Regions from separate parts of the Homo sapiens genome. Here region 2 is linked to region 1. Evidence: fine-mapped expression QTL. A gene starts in region 1. The other region holds a variant in brackets. All regions are shown on one strand. Distances are between the middles of the regions.

Region 1 (8,334 bases):
GTCAAAGTCATTCTCTGTCCAGCTTTGTTCCGTTGCTGGCAAGGAGCTGCGATCCTTTGGAGGAGATGAGGTGCTCTGATTTTTAGAATTTTCAGCTTTTCTGCTCTGGTTTCTCCCCATCTTTGTGGTTTTATCTACCTTTGGTCTTTGATGTTGGTAACCTACAAATGGGGTTTTGGTGTGGATGTCCTTTTTGTTGATGTTGAAGCTATTCCTTTCTGTCTACTAGTTTTCCTTCTAATGGTCACGTCCCTCAGCTGCAGGTCTGTTGGAGTTTGCTGGAGGTCCACTGCAGACCCTGTTTGCCTGGGTATCACCAGCAGAGGCTACAGAACAGCAAATATTGCTGCCTGATCCTTCCTCTGGAAGCTTTGTCCCAGAGGGACACCTGCCTGTTTGAGGTGTCTGTCAGCCCCTACTGGGAGGTGTTTCCCAGTCAGGCTACACGGGGGTCAGGGACCCACTTGAGGAGGCCGTCTGTCCGTTCTCAGAGCTCAAACACCATGCTGGGAGAACCACTGCTCTCTTCAGAGCTATCAGACAGGGACGTTTAAGTCCACAGAAGTTTCTGCTGCCTTTTGCTCAGCTATGCCCTGCCCACAGAGCTGAAGTCTATGGAGGCAGTAGGCCTTGCTGAGCTGCAGTGGGCTCCTCCCAGTTCAAGCTTCCTGGGCGCTCTGTTTACCTACTCAAGCCTCAGCAATGGTGGATTCCCCTCCCCCTGCCAGGCTGCTGCCTCGCAGATTGATCTCAGACTGCTGTGCTAGCACTGAGCAAGGCTCCATGGGTATAGGATCCGTCAAGCCAGGCATGGGAGAGAATCTCCTGGTCTGCTTGTTGCTAAGACTGTGGAAAAAGCCCACTATTTGGGCAGAAGTGTCCCATTTTTCCAGGTATAGTCTGTCACGGCATCCCTTGGTTAGGAAAGGGAAATCCCCCAATCCCTTGCGCTTCCTGGGTGAGGTGATGCCCCGCCTCGATTTGGCTCACCCTCCATGGGGTGCGACCAGTGTTCAACCAGTCCCAGTGAGATGAACCAGGTACCTCAGTTGGAAACACAGAAATCACCCGTCCTGTGCGTCAATCACGCTGGGAGCTGCAGACCAGAGCTGTTCCTATTCCCACATTTTCATACTAAAGCGAAAATACATACAATGGTCTCAACAGATGCAGAAAAGCCATTCATAAAATTTAATATTTCTTCACAATAAAAATCTGAGCAAGGTAAGGGCTGGGCATAGTGACTCACACCTGTAATCTCAGCACTTTGGGAGGCCTAGGTGGGCAGATCACCTGAGGTCAGGAGTTCAAGACCAGCCTGGCCAACATAGTGAAACCCCATCTCTATTAAAAATACAAAAATTAGCTGGGCGGAGTGGCACGCGCCTGTAGTCTCAACTGTCCGGGAGACTGAGGCAGGAGAATCACTTGAACCCAGGAGGTAGAGGTTGCCATGAGCCAAGATTGCGTCTCTGCACTCCAGCCTGGGAGACACAGTGAGACTCCATCTCAAACAAAAATAAAAATGAAATAAAAATAAAATAAAATAAATCTGAGCAAGGTAGAGAGAGAGAATTTTGACAAGATATCTATCAAAAACAAAAAGCAAACTTCACATTTAACAGTAAAACTTCAGAAGCACTCCAGTGGAAGTCAGGACCAATACAAGGATGCTAGCTTATCTGTAAATGACAGAACTGGCTACACAAAACTAAAGAGAATTTCAACCAAACCATCAGAACTAATTAAGAGTTTGAGATTATGCTGTACATAATATTTACATTAAAAAAAATCAATAGCATTCTGCCATACCAGTTAATAACCAACTGGAAAATGTAAAAGGAAAAAAGAAAGCCCATTTGCAACTACTACAGCAAAAATAATCTAGGAATAAAAAATAAAATATGGAAAAAAATTTCATGGAGGTAATTATAAGTTTTTTGTTGTTGTTGTTGTTTGAGATGGAGTCTCCCTCTGTTGCCCAGGCTGCAGTGCAGTGGCGTGATCTTGGCTCACTGCAAGCTCCGCCTCGTGGGTTCACGCCATTCTCCTGCCTCAGCCTCCTGATTAGCTGGGACTACAGGTGCCCGCCACCGCACCCAGCTAATGTTTTTTTGTATTTTTAGTAGAGACGGGGTTTCTCCGAGTTAGCCAGGATGGTCTCGATCTCCTGACCTCGTGATCTGCCCGCCCAGTCTCCCAAAGTGGATAATTATAAGATATTTAAGGCAAAAAGATAAATTCCCACCAATTGTAGCTTATACAATATTCATGGAATAAAAACTTACTTGATCCATAAATTCAGCTCAGTTCCAATAAAAATCCCAGTAAGTCTTTTTATAAAGGACTAAGTGTAAAGAGCGCAATTACAAAGAACAGCAATGTGTGGAAACTCTTGACATACTACATATCAAGACTTATAAAATTCTGTAATTAAGATAGTGTGGTGCTAGTAGAAAGTCAGAAAATGCCCAAAACAGAACTACATATTTAGGAAACCTTGATATGACATAGATGGCATTAAAAACTAAGAATAGACTACTCAATAAATGGTGCTGCGACAATTAGTTACCTATATGGAAAAAAAAATTAGATTTTTATACAAAGTCAGTTCCATGTGGATTAAATGCAAATGAAAAAACCGGAAGATTTAAAAGAAAACATACAGAAAAACTGTCCTGATCTAGGTAGACAGGATTTCTTAACCAAGACAAAAAGCATAAACAATAAAATATGACAATTTTGGCTGTATTAAAATCAAAAACATCTGTACAAAAAATTGAACATAAATATAAAGAGGAGAAGCCACACAGTGAAAAATATTAGCAAAATGTAGTAACAAAAAAGGATTAGTTTAACAATACTCTTACAAATTGGTAAGCAAAGATAAAGCCAATAGAAAATTGGGCAACAGAAAAAACAAAAACAGATACAAAAAATAATATATAAATAGTAACATGTAATTAGATATAAAATATATATTATTGTTACATTGTTAAGTTTTAGATATAAAATGCATATAAATAGCACAAACCTAAGTACTAAAATATAAAAACATTACTGGGTATGCGAAACACCAAATAAGGACAATAGTCACCACTATAAAGAAGAATGGGAGAGTTTAGCCGTCTTTTATTTTGAAAAATTCGACATAAGTCTGGCAAATGTTAACACTGTTTAAAGTTGAGTAGTGAATATATAGGTATTATCTTACTCTCTACTGGTCTCTGTGTTTAAAATATTTCACGATAAAGTGGGAAAATGGTTAATTTTACATAAAAAGAACTTTAACAGATGCAAAAAATAAAACCTCTCTCATTCGACAAGCAGCCTAAATGGGGAAAAAAGAACCCACTCAAAAAAAAGGTAGCAGATAATGTCACCGTGGCTTACCAGCCTAATCAAACTTATTACTTGTTATGTATATATCCTTATTAAACTAAGTCGTTACTGTGTTAAAGCATTTTAGTGTTTAAATAAAAGATTTCAGAATACAGCAGAAATACATTCCAATATGTTGGGGTTTTTACGCTTAGGAAAACCTACAATAGTAGGTGATTTGACATTTGAATCACACCTATCTGAATTAAGATGTCCAGCACTACCAAACAAAAGCCACACGAGGCCACGAAACACTCCCAACTCTGCATGTTTTAGCCTTTTTAAAGTCCTAGAAACCAACTGATACTGATTAAAAACCAAACAAAAAAAAAATACAGGCCTCAGAAAAATACACTATTTTGCACACAAAGTCCATCCATAGGCCTCAGATCTAGAACTCCTGCTTTAAAGTTGCTTCTCCAATCTCGATCCGAAACACTGGCTGAGTTATGCTGGAAAAGAATGCAAAGTGTACGGGGCTTGAGTTCCTGTTGCGTAAAACCTTTCCGGCTTTCAGCAACTTCTCGAGAGGTTAACACCTTTAAGGAGAGACTTTGCTCCCTGTCGATGCCGTGGCTGGACAAATGCCGCTCTCAACTGCTACAGACCAAAGTCTACGCTTTAAAGATAGAGAAGCCATTCTGTCAAAGTGAAAACAGAAGCGGTAGGTAGGAAGCCGCCCCCCTTTCTTTCAAGCACAGAGACCCAGAGAGACGCCCAGGAGCTCCCGAAAAAAACGTTGCTGATTAGAGCTGCCGGGTCAGAAACAGCTGTGAGACACTAAAGTCCCCACTGGTAAGCGCCCCAGCTCCACCTCGGCCCCTATCCCCAAGGTTGGGTATTGGTTAAAGGGGGGAAGGGAATACCTCCACTAACAACCGCTACAACCGCCTCCTGCCAAGTCCCCGCTCGGGCCCACTAAACTCACAGCCTGAAGAATCCCACACTCACTGGAAAGTGGGGCCCGGTCCTGGTCCCGGTCCGGCTCCCGGAATTCGGCGGGTCTCCCAGGGTTTGGGGGGAGGTGGCGGCTGGGACGCCATCTCCTCCGCCTCCTCTCGGCTCCCGCTCCTACCCCTGACTGTCCAGGCCCGCGTAGACCAGCACCTGGAGCGTAAGACACAACGGGCAGAACACCGAGCCGTCCACCCCGCCCACCCTTGCAGTCAGGACAAGGCTTGAGTTACTTTGCCAGCTGAATCCATACAGCGGGAGGATGCCACTAATTTGTAGGAAGAAACACGCTCTTTGTATTTGCCCCAGAAAGAGCTGCCTTTCTAAACCTCAGGGTAAAGGCTCATCGATATTTCTGGTAGCGGCTACAACTCCCTAGACGTCGGAGTCCCACCGAGGCTTTTCTGGGAGTGGACCAGTCGGGCTGGGAGTAAAGCCGCACGCACTCCTTCGCTCGTGGGGGAGGTAGGGTGAGGTGGCAAACCAGGCAGTTTTTCGGATTTCCTCTACAAACAAGAAGGGAGAAGCTCACTTAGTCCTAGCGAGAGCGGGCTGGTACTTTTGTTCTAAAACGCACGTTTCCTCGGGGAACAGAATTGCTAGACGCAATAGGTGCGTTGTCTTTAGTCTTCCCTCTTCCCTTCGAGGGCCGGAAGGGGTTAAATCTCAGGCTCCGGCGTCTGGGGAGAAGGTGAGGCGGGTAGGTAAGAGGTGAAGGAGTGCAGACTGGGTGCAAAAGAGGTGTGGCGGGAGAGAGTTCGTTTCTCTCCTGCTGGAGCGGCTTTGTTAGCAAAGGAGGGGTGAGTGGGAAGTTTGTTGCACCTGACCGAAGGGGGAAGGGCTTGCTTGGCGAAAACTGAGGCTTGAGGTTAGATCTCGGGATGAACTTTTCAAGAGTCCACAGTAGATTCCAGAGCTGAATGTTTCAGAAGCCCAGTGAAGTGTGATCACCTCTTTCTCCGTAAATCCACACCCCCAGCCCCACGCCGCGTTACGAATGACACCCTTCGGTAGGGAAATGAGTTTTAAAAGATCTTAGGATATGAGACTCAGTCTGGTCATTTCGCTAGTTTTTCTTATACCCTGCCCCTTTTCTCGTTTTCGATGACTGGTTTTTGTAATCGTCCAAGAGGTGAAAATAAAGTCCTTCCTCTCCTCCAGTAAGCCAGAGACTGGGCTAGTTATCCTTGATTTGGGGAGGAGGGATTCAGTCCTCCTAGGGAGCCTGACACATGAAAGGCGGCTTTGTAGCAACTTGTTACAGAGTTATTTCTATAAAACAAACACATAAACGAAAAGCAAACATCTTGAGGGTAACCAACACTGGAAAACTTACATTGTGGAATGCCTTTCTCAGGGCTTGCTTTCAAACATAATAAATCTAATATGGACAACCGATTTCTAATATCTTATGAAATCCTGGCATTTAATTATCTCACGATGAAAAAACCAAATTTAAGACGTAACGTATTTTCTCCTTTTAATGTTAACATTCTTGAGAAGTTGATAAATTGTTGGTAGGTGAAAATGATGTTGAGAGGTTTGTAAATTCATAGCTCGTTTATTAACACACATTCAAAAGAGGTCTTTTTTGGGGTCTATTTTTAGACCTCTTCAAATTACTCAGGACTGGAAGTTTTGTAATTCTCATCAATCAGGTTTGGGAACTTCTCAGAGCCAGGAGATTGTAATGTGTCATTTATTTACTTTGCATGATACCTTTGTTCTTGTGAACTTACTGGAAAAATAAACATTGTCTTCTAGCCATGGAAAATAAAATAAATTTTAATATAGCTATTTAAGTATCGAGGGAAATCTTCATTAAGTGTCCTTTTAAAGTGCTTATTGATTTATTGGAAGAGGGTGTATTTCTTCTGTCTCTTTTTGAGTTAAATGTTACTTCTGAATTAAGTAAAATTCTTGACCTTAACTAATGGAGAAAAAATAACTTAGAGTAACAGGTGAAACAGAAACAGTTTCTCTGTGTATGTAGTCAGAGATGCACTGTAAATGCTTATATTCGCCCCTCACAGCATCCGATCTCTTCTCTGCATCAAAGTAGATTAAATGGGCTGGGAAAAGGGATCCAGATCACTAGTAAATAGTAATGACTTGACCTTGACCACACAGATCTTATTTATTTATTTATTGAGATGGAGTCTCGCTCTGTTGCCCAGACTGGAGTACAGTGGCACGATTTTGGCTCTCTGCAACCTCTGCCTCCTGGGTTCGGGCGATTCTCCTGCCTCAGCCTCCTGAGTAGCTGGGACTACAGGTGCGTGCCACCACGCATGGCTAATTTTTTGTATTTTTAGTAGAGATGGGATTTCATCGTGTTAGCCAGGATGGTCTCGATCTCCTGACCTCATGATCCTCCTGCCTCAGCCTCCCAAAGTCCTGGGCTTACTGCAACCTCCACCTACTGGGTTCAAGTGATTCTCCTGCCTCAACCTCCCGAGTAGCAGGGATTACAGGTGCACACCTCCACACGTGGCTAATTTTTGTATTTTAGTAGAGATGGAGTTTTACCATGTTGGCCAGGCTGGTCTTGAACTCCAGACCTCAAGTGATAATGCCTGCCTCGGCCTCCCAAAGTGCTGGGATTACAGGCGTGAGCCACTGGGCCTGGCCAGATCTTCATTATTTAGAGGCTGTTTTCCACATATTCTGTTTTCTTTCTTGAAAATACCCTGGAGCCCAAATTTACTTAGGCAACCCTAACTATGCGTTTCTCAATTCTGGTGTTTCAAAGTTGTCACCTTGTCAGCTTGTATGGTGTGTCCATACAAGCCTGATTTTCTTCCCTCTGCTGACTCACATATTCCCCTGAATTAGAATTCAGCCAGAGGCAATCTGTTTTTAGTAGTCCTGGCTGCTGAACTGATTTTTATGGTGAAGAGTTCTATGTAACTATATGCCTGTCTTCCTCATTATTTTGTGCAAGAATCTTGGTAAGTGGCCCCAAACATTTAGCAACTTGCAAGTAAGTAGGAAGTTTTAGAGGTTTGGAAAACGCAGACTAGAAGAATCACGTCTTTATACTAAGCTGTTGGGAGGAGCTTCACCCTTCCACAAATTTTAAGCAAGTTCATTTGAATTATGAAACTGCACAAATTAAAAGATGCCACTGTCGTTCATCTTTATGACCACAGTTACAGCATGCCATAAGATTGCCATGCAATGATTATTTTCTAAAATATGGGCAGTTGATCATTTTAAGGTAATATGAACTGTTTCACTAATTAGAAGATCTTGTTTTGCTGAACAAATTAGGTTGTTTGAATTTTTAGTACCCCCTCCTTCCCGGTAACAGGAGACAGATTTGCCTTCATTCTCTATATAGTATTTTTTTGTGAGTTTATTTAAATTGCAAAAATTGGCAATTTAAGCAAACAGTTGCTCTCAAATATTTTGTACTTAATTTGTTTTTGTTGAAGGTTTTTTTGTTTGTTTGTTTGCTTGTTTGTTTGAGATGGAATTTCGCTCTTATTGCCCAGGCTGGAGTGAAGTGGCATGATCTCGGCTCACTGCACCCTCCGCCTCCTGGGGTTCAAGTGATTCTCTTGTCTCAGCCTCCTGAGTGGCTGGGATTATAGGCACACGCCAACACACCTGGCTAATAGTTTTTTGTATTTTTAGTAGAGATAGGGTTTTACCGTGTTGGCCAGGCTGGTCTCAAACTCCTGTTGTCAGGTGATCCGCCCGCCTCGGCTTCCCAAAGTGCTGGGATTACAGGTGTGAGCCACTGCGCCTGACCTTTTGTTGGAGGTTTTACTCATGAAAGGGGCAGATTTTTATTTTGTTAACAGGTGGTTGCCATTTAGTCATATAATCAAAGTAAAGTTGATGTCTTTAGACCTGCTGATCAACTTTGTTGTTGTTGTTGTTGTTGTTGTTTGTTTGTATTTTTGAGACAGCATCTCACTCTGTTGCCCAGGCTGGAGTGCAGGCGCCAGCCACCACACCCAACTAATTTTTGTATTTTTAGTAGAGACAAGG
Region 2 (8,334 bases), 170 kb after region 1:
TGTAGTCTTTAAAGGGCGATTTCCCCAGTTAAACTTACTGTTGACTCCTTATCTGACCTTTTAAGAGAGGACCTCTCAAGAGCTTCCTGGAACTATGCTCCCTGGTTGAGGGTGGGGTAGGTGTGTAGATTATTCCATTCTCTTCTCTGAAATCTCTCCTTTTTTATTGGAGTTCTTTGGACCCGAGTCACCCTTTCCGGCCTAGTAGTAGCCAAAGGAAAAGAGTCTCTATTAATAATACCTTATTTGAGAGCAGTTGGGTCCAAGCATATCTCCCTTTGCCTTTTAGATTGGACTAGTCTTGCCTTCACAATCAAAACATTTCTCTTAAGGAAATCCTTCCCTCTACATGGCAATGGTGGTAAGGCTCAGCTTTAGCCAGTCAGCATGGACACTGGCTGCAAACAACCCAGGTGTGTCTCTGGCTGAACCCCAGGCTTCTTCCCCTGCTGTCCTCCCTTCCCCCATTATCAGCCTAGCTGCATTACTTCTCTTTCTCTCCAACTGCTCTCATTCTGACTTCAAGGTCAGCGTGTCTCAACCAGTTCAGCTCCTCCTTGATTCTTGGAGACAGTGTGTTCTTGCCACAGGTCTTTTTACTATTCATTTTTGGTTTTTTGGTTTCTTTTTTTTTTTTTGAGATGGAGTCTTGCTCTGTTGCCCAGGCTGGAGTGTAGGGGCGTGATCTTGGCTCACTCCAACCTCCATCTCCCGGGTTCAAGTGACTCTCCTACCTCAGTTTCCCTAGTAGCTGGGATTACAGGCATGCGCCACCATACCTGGCTAATTTTTGTATTTTTAGTAGAGACGGGGTTTCGCCATGTTGGCCAGGCTGGTCTCAAACTCCTGACCTCGAGTGATCTGCCTGCCTCAGCCTTCCAAAGTGCTGGGATTATAGGCATGAGCCACCACGCCTGGCCAGTTTTTTTCTTTTTTTCTTTTTTTTTTTTTTTTAGACAGGGTCTTGCTCTGTGCCCAGGCTAACTAAGTGCAGTGGTACAGTCATGGCTCACTGCAGCCTTGATATCCCGGGCTCAAGCAATCCTCCCATCTCAGCCTCCTGTGTAGCTGGGACTATAGGCATTTATAAACAGCCACTCCTGGTTAATTATTTATTTATTTTTTTTAGAGATGAGGTCTCATTATGTTGCCCAGGCTGGTCTCAAACTCCTGGAGGCATGCAGTCTCCCCTCCTTGTTCTCCCAAAGTGCTGGGATTACAGGTGTGAGCCACCCCATCCAACCTATTCCTCTTAATCTTTGGTTTTACTAATATTTTCATTAATGCCCCAAAAGATGGCCAGCCACCTGTAAAATAAGGTCCCCAGTTTCTCTATCTGTTCATTGATAAAAAGCCACTACCCTCTGTGGCTGAACCTCCAAATCTGGGTCTCTGATCAAAACCATGGCCAGGGTTAAGTAACAAATCTACAGAGGACTTTAAACTATGCCATGGGTTTTGAGGGTGATTCTAGGAGTCTGGAGGTAAGTGTACAGAATCAGGATATTAATTCCACCACAGTTCTTTTCTTGGCCCTAAAATCGGATTCAGGTCAACATAACATAAATAGGAAGAGAATTTGAAGCAGTTGATTGAATGCGTGGAAGGCTAGAACCACACAGGCTAGTGTACTCTAACCCAGTGGTCCTCAGACCAGTAGCATCACCTAGGAACTTGTTAGAAATGCAAATTCCTAGATTTTACCCCAGACCTACTCAATCATGGAGTGGAAGCCCAGGAAACTGTATTTTAATAAGCTTACTCAGTGACTTTTATGCATGTGAGAGTTTGAGAACCGAAGCTGTAGCCCACATGGAGCTTAGCTTCCTTTGGCCTGTCCCTGCCTGAGAAGCATGATAGGCACGACAAAAAAGTATCCCAACTACTGATATCTAAAGAATGTAGTCACTGAAGCTCTGCAAGTTTTAAGTGACTGAACGATTCCTCTAATGTTGGCGGCACCTGCTTAGATCTATCAGTTACAAAAGTCTGCGCAACCTGTGTATACTAAGGTAGCAAAGGCCTGAGTTTGCTGAGGTCCTGTGACACCAGTCTCATTAAACTGCTGTATCCTAAATAAGTCAAGGACCTAGAATCCCCTCCTGTCCAAAGCATCCTTCTTACTGGGTGTATCTTAAGTCTCCATCCCTGTGCCCGTTCCTTAAGCTTTCCTGGGCTTTGGGCCCTGTGCGGGTTTTGAGGGTGGTGGTAGACGTACGCATCATCTACCTTCCACTGAGTTGGAACCAACTGAGAAGTAGAATGAGTCCACAGCTAGGGATCAATATCAACTTTATTGCTGATAAAGTTGGATTGGAAAATGCAGCTGGGACTCTGCAGACACCACTAATCTTCCTAATGCCTTCCCCCGCACTGAATCTCCCCACTCCGCTGTGGACCTCCCCTCGGCAGAGGCAGAGGCCCCTTGGTGAAATTGCCAGACCACCCATGTGGTCCAGTTTGGCTCCCTAGAGCTTATGCAGCCTTTCCCCAAACCCCACTTCCATCCCCCCATCGGTTCATTTACCTGGTCTTTGGAAAAGAGTGGTAAATGGTGGAGAGACAGCCAGGGGAGGTGATCCAGTACTGTCCCCTCTGGGATGGACGTGAAGATAGAGAAATAAGGCTTTCCCTGGCTGTGGGAATCATATCTTAGGTCATGGAAAGAGTCGAGAATAGGAAGAGAGGAAGGTCAGGACTGAGGCTTGAGTGAAGCTTACATGTAAACATGGTTGCAAGGAGGAAGCCCCAAACTAAGAGGAAAAAGGAGAGTAGGAGGAGAAACCCAAGGAGCGTGTGGCATCACAGAGGCAGAGGCAAGAGCATTTTAAGGAGAGAGTGATCCGCAGGGTCAGAGTTTCCTAAGTGGGCAGTAATATGAGGAACAAAACCAATTCCTTGGACTTAGCCACATGGAACCACTGGTGACTTTACAGAAGGGTGGAAAGGGGAACTGAGGTTTAAGGTAGTCACTGGAAGGAGACAGGGTGTCCAGGGGGAGGCTAGAACTTGTTTGAACACTGACACAGAAGGACAGCCACATGTACTGTGGAGGCTATGGTGGGGGCTATAGCCCAGGCCCCACACTCCTGGCCAGGCACCTTGGGTACAGGCTCTGTCAGTCTATCTGGAGGACCTTCCCTAATTTGCACAAAAATCCTTCGTGAGCTAACACCTGCCCTGGATAGGAAAGATCTCCCAGCTTGAGTCCTGAGATACCTCCAAACCCCAATTAGGGCAGCAGCGACAAAGGCACTTCTTCATTTAGAGTTTGCCTGCAATTTTGTTAGGACCTAATTATGTTAGCACCCATTGATCAAGTATTTAAATTCTAATCTGATAAAACATCTAAACTCTCCCTTAGTGACAACTCCTTAGTTTCCTAGGAACCACACTTTAGATTAACAAGGAGGGGACTGCAAAGGCAACGGGGCAACTCTGACTCTCAGGATGGGAGAGCATCTCCCTGGACCAATTGCTGCCGTCTCTCCTGTCTTGATCCTCAGAGCCCATATTCCCTAAGAGCTGGTCTTCAGGCATGGTTTTTAGAACCATGGATTTGACTCTTATTTACAATATCTTACCTTTTTCAATTAAATAACTTCCAACTATGATATCATAGAAACATTACTACCACCAGAGACATCTTAATAATAAGCTGCCCCTGCTAATACCACACGCGTACAATTTCCCACACAACTTATCATATGTTCACATTTCTAGAAAACCAAAATAAATGGGATTGGAAAAAACTGTTTAGCAATTTTGGTCAGGGTGCATTTATTTATTTATTTATTTGTTGTTGTTGTTTTCTTTTTTTCTTCCCTTTTTTTTTTT[A/TTTA]ACAGTCCAGAGGTCTTTTAATTTTTTTTTACACCGATTACACCATGAATTCATCATAGGGAAGAGAGTCCAGCAGCTCAGGCTGTTTCCTGTTGGCTCTCACACAGTGCACTTCTCCGGGTGAAGCAGGCTGGCACCTCAGTTGAACCCAAGTGCCTTCCTCATTGGCTTCCTTCTTTTTCTGATCATTTTCCGTCACATGTTTCAGGAAGCTATGGCGGCTGTGCTTAATAATGCTATGGTGGCTGTGCTCAATAAATACCCACATTAATTCTCTTGGCAAGAATCTTGCCCTCAACTTGTTTGTTTACAACAATGCCAACAGCATGCTGTGGAACACTGTAGACTCTTCCAGTCTCTCCGTGATAACATTTGTGGGACATTCCTTTTTGAACAGTACACATTCCCTTATGTCTACAATATCACCTTTCTCGCAGATTGGCATATATGTGGCCAAAGGAACAACTCCATGTTTTCTAAAAGGCCTAGAGAACACGGGTTGCGTGCCTCACCTCTTTGTGTTTGTCATTTTGGGAAATTACTGGAAGATGCCAGTTCTGGCTGAAAGGGTCATTTAGTTCATATTAAGATTTAAATCTGGCTGGGTGCGGTGGCTCACACCTGTAACTCCAGCACTTTGGCAAGTTGAGGCAGGAGGATCCCTTAAGCTCAGGGTTCAAGACCAACCTGGGCAACAAAGTGAGACCTTGTCTCTAAATACAAAAAGAAGAAAAAGATATAAATGTGTTATTAAAGGGGAAAATTAGGATCGATGCTAAAAGTTTATTTTAAATTGGCCTCAGGATAATTTAGATATATAAATTATTTTTTAATACACACACACATGCACACACACGCACACACACTCCTATGAAACAACCAGAGTTCCTTTATTTTATTTTATTTTTTAGTTTTTTTTTTTTTTTGCCTTAGATCCAGGGACAGACTGGATGACAGCCAGATTTGAAATGTCTGCACTTTGGGTGCTATAATTAGGAGTCAATCAACTATTTTATGTTAATAAAAATCTACCCATGTTTCTGGTATGCCAAGGTAATAGAAATGACAAAACAAAATGATTTATTATCAGGAAATGACTGAAGGAGATAACTGCAATATAAAAGATAAAGAATGATAATTACTGTTATACATGTGGTAGCCAGAAACTTAGACCGTTTTCTGGGGAAAAAAATTAGTACAGGCACATTATCCACTGTAGGACATTTATGACAAACTCTTTTTTAGGAGGTTAAAATATGATACTGGAATGTAATAGGCTTCAAAATAACATAATAATAAAACATGTTAGGGACTTATTTACAGATGAAAATGACTTCTAATGGGATTTTGGCACTTCCTTTCTACAGGGTCCAAGGTGGGGTGATCTATGCAAAAGTCCATTCTAGGCTTAACAAGGCCTTCTAGAAGTTTTAACATATTCTAGTCTTCCTGCAAGGCCTAGGAGGGAACCAGCTATATCCTGTCCTGGAGATGGAGGATGCACGACCACTTTGAAGAGACATAACAGATCTATGTAGAGGAATGGTTCCTGGGTTCAGACAGGGCTATTGCACGCAGGAGTGAAGAGAGAGGGGTCAGGATGGCCCCCTGTGTGTACAAAATTGTTGCCAATGGGGATGTGGGGTGGGCATTGGGGAATGAAAATGAAAGGAAATAAATACATAAATAAAACAAAAGTGACCTTTTACCACCCAAATATATAATAAGGATGATGATGATGTGCCATGAACTGGGGAGTAGGATTAATGGTTCAATTAAAAATGCATACATCAGCTGGGCACCGTGGCTCATGCCTGTAATCCCAGCACTTTGGAGGCTGAGGCAGGCAGATCACCTGAGGTTAGGAGTTCGAGACCAGTCTAGCCAACATGGTGAAATCCTGTCTCTACTAAAAATACAAAAATTAGCCAGGTGTGGTGGCAGGCGCCTGTAATCCCAGCTACTTGGGAGGCTGAGGCATGAGAATCACTTGAACCTAGGAGGCAGAAGTTTCAGTGAGCCGAGATCGCACCACTGCATTCCAGCCTGGGAGATAGAGTGAGACTCTGTCTCAAAACAAACAAACAAACAAAAAATGCATCACACATACATGAATAAAATATACCCAAAGAGAGCAAGGTTTGTTATCAAGTAGGTTTGTTTTCAGTGCCTTTTTACTTTCCACTCACCTCCTTTCACATTCCTGCTTTCCTAGCTTTTCTTTCCCCAATCTTGGGATGGCCCCCTGGCTGCCCAGGGACTCCTCACTGTGAGCTCCTCCCCAGGGAGCATCCCATGCTGTCCACACATTCTCCTTTCTCTCTTCCTTGGTATCTTTCTGTCCTCTGCTTCATTCATTAGAACTGGCAAGAGGGCCCTTGCCCTGAGTCCTGCACTTTAGAGGGGCCTGCTCCTGCCATGCCCCTCTCCATGGGGTGAAGAGTCCTTAGGACCAAGGGGACTCCTCCCCAGCCTGGAGCCCATGCTCTCCTTCAAGATCACAGTTTGGGAACCTGAGAACTCAAAGAGCCCCAGCTCTCCTGCAGGCCTGTTCCCAGTATCGGTGGTCTCAAGGGCAGACTACGTTCGTGGTGTGTGCATCCCAAAGCCCAGAGTACCCAAGGGGCAGCTGGACAGAGCTTGAAAGTGCAGGCAGGGGTGCCCACATACCTATACGGGAGGCCCCTGTGGTGTGGGAGGGATCCAGGGTGGGAGGAGAAGGGAGGCTGGACATGAGCTGGGGCTAGGGGCTGGCTGGCCCTTCATGTGCCACCACTTCTGGCAGAGAAGTCTAAGTAGAGTCTGAGAATTCTGAAGTTGAACCCAGCCTTCCAAATTGTCATCAGGGTAGGAAGATGGAACATATTTCATCAGTTTGTTGGCTTGATTATAACTTTTAAATATTTAGACACACATGGTGTAGACCTCTTTTGGAACTGGCAGGTGTAAAGGATTGTCTTGGATTGAACCCTCTGCCTTCCACAAGGACATCTGGGGCTTTGAAAGGTGGCCCCTGGAAACATGGGGTCTTTACCCAAGGAAGGGCTATCCTGATCAGAGCACGGTAAATACTGTGGCAAGGGGTTGGTGCAACAGAGTCTTTGGTCTCCCTCTGATCACACTAGGTAAGTGGCTGCCTCATCTGTCTTTGATGGCTGGTCCCAGCTGGAGGATGGGTTGGCCATTCAGTGATCACTACTGTATATAAATGAGCAAAGCAAACTGCCCCCTGTCTACCAGGCACTGGGGCTGTCAGCATCTCCTCCACCCTCTCCCACCTTTAACTTACACAGGCTGAAAATAGCTTTTTAATTTTTTTCTTAGGACATGCCACTGGATAGTGTTGGTTTTTTTTTTTTTTTTTTTTTTTTTTTTTTGAGATAGAGTCTTGCTTAGTCACCCAGACTGGAGTGCAGTGTTGCAATCTCAGCTAAGTGCAGCCTCTGCCTCCTGGGTTCAAGTGATTCTCCTGCCTCAACCTCCTGAATAGCTGGGATTACAGGCGTGAGCCACCACACCCTGCTAATTTTTTTTTTTCGTATTTTTTTTAGTAGAGATGGGGTTTCACCATGTTTCCAAGGCTGGTCTCGAACTCCTGGGACCTCAAGTGATCCGCCCACCTCGGGCTCCCGAAGTGCTGGGATTATAGGCATGAACCACCGTGCCTGACCAGGATGATGGGAATTTTTAATGGGAAGGCTGTGACACAACCTAAAAGAGGCACCATTAGTGAGGCAAGCAGGCAGAAGTCTTTGGATAGGAGGAGCAATGAACCTGGGAGAGAGCATCGAGCAGGGGCACATGTGGAGAACCTGCTTCGGAACCTATTAGAGGCAGAAAAGACCCTGGGCAAGTCCAGTTCCCATGGATCAGGCATTCCTTGGATTGTCCGCCCTGCATTTGTCTTCTCTCTTTCCCTTTTCCTTGCAGTACCCCGAGGCTCCCACTCCTGTTCCCGGAACCAAGCTAGGTCCGGCTGCATTTTCTGGAGGCTCAATAACAAGAAGCAGACAAACTAGGAAAGAAGGGAATTGACTACTATAGCCGGATACAGGGAGAAGGCCGGAGATAATTCCACCAGACCAACTCAAAAGTGTTAAAATTTTCTTAGTGCAGTCTAGCATTCGCCTAAGTCTATTGGTAACTAATTTTGTTTCAACTAGAAGGTCAGAGGCAAAAAAAAGAAATGCTAAGTCCGATTAAAAGGGCCCCAGTACCTTCAAGGCCTGTCTATGGTGGTACGGAGTGATTATTTCTATCTTATCTCTTTTACAGCTTGGTCTGGAGAGCTGCCTTAGACTTCCCAATGAATTTATTAAAACAGCTGCCTCTGTAACCTTGACTTGTCTCAGATTTTGTCGACCTGAGATGGGTCCTGGCACTAGGAATGTAAAACTGTCTCTATTATTTTGGTTTGCTCCAGCAAGGGAGAAGCCCATGCAAGGCTCCTACTGACTGTATGTTTCATTTCTAGCTTGGATGTCTCAGCACCGATTT

Direction of the effects. Alleles are on the strand shown, and positions count from the first base shown. SD is a standard deviation of normalised expression in the study named.
For the expression in monocytes after LPS of the gene that starts at base 3,929 in region 1, allele TTTA in region 2 goes with a higher level than allele A (small effect, 0.40 SD a copy in Quach 2016).

What was found. PIP is the estimated chance that this variant, and not a neighbour inherited with it, causes the effect.
Region 2: its variant is fine-mapped to the expression of PUS10 in monocytes after LPS (Quach 2016, PIP 0.95).

What each region holds. Positions count from the first base shown.
Region 1 is chr2:61,013,850-61,022,183 of GRCh38, reverse strand. PUS10 (pseudouridine synthase 10) reads left to right here and starts at 3,929. Exons shown (of 18, transcript NM_144709.4): 1 at 3,929-4,176. PEX13 (peroxisomal biogenesis factor 13) reads right to left here and starts at 4,464. Exons shown (of 4, transcript NM_002618.4): 1 at 4,333-4,464. The coding sequence starts at 4,424. RefSeq lists an enhancer at 4,008-4,057.
Region 2 is chr2:60,848,292-60,856,625 of GRCh38, reverse strand. REL-DT (REL divergent transcript) reads left to right here. Exons shown (of 3, transcript NR_033980.1): 3 at 7,392-8,334. It also overlaps the pseudogene RPL21P33. Among named protein-coding and RNA genes, the nearest start is that of REL-DT, 29 kb to the left of the region's middle. The variant A/TTTA (reference allele first, on the strand shown) is at 3,838.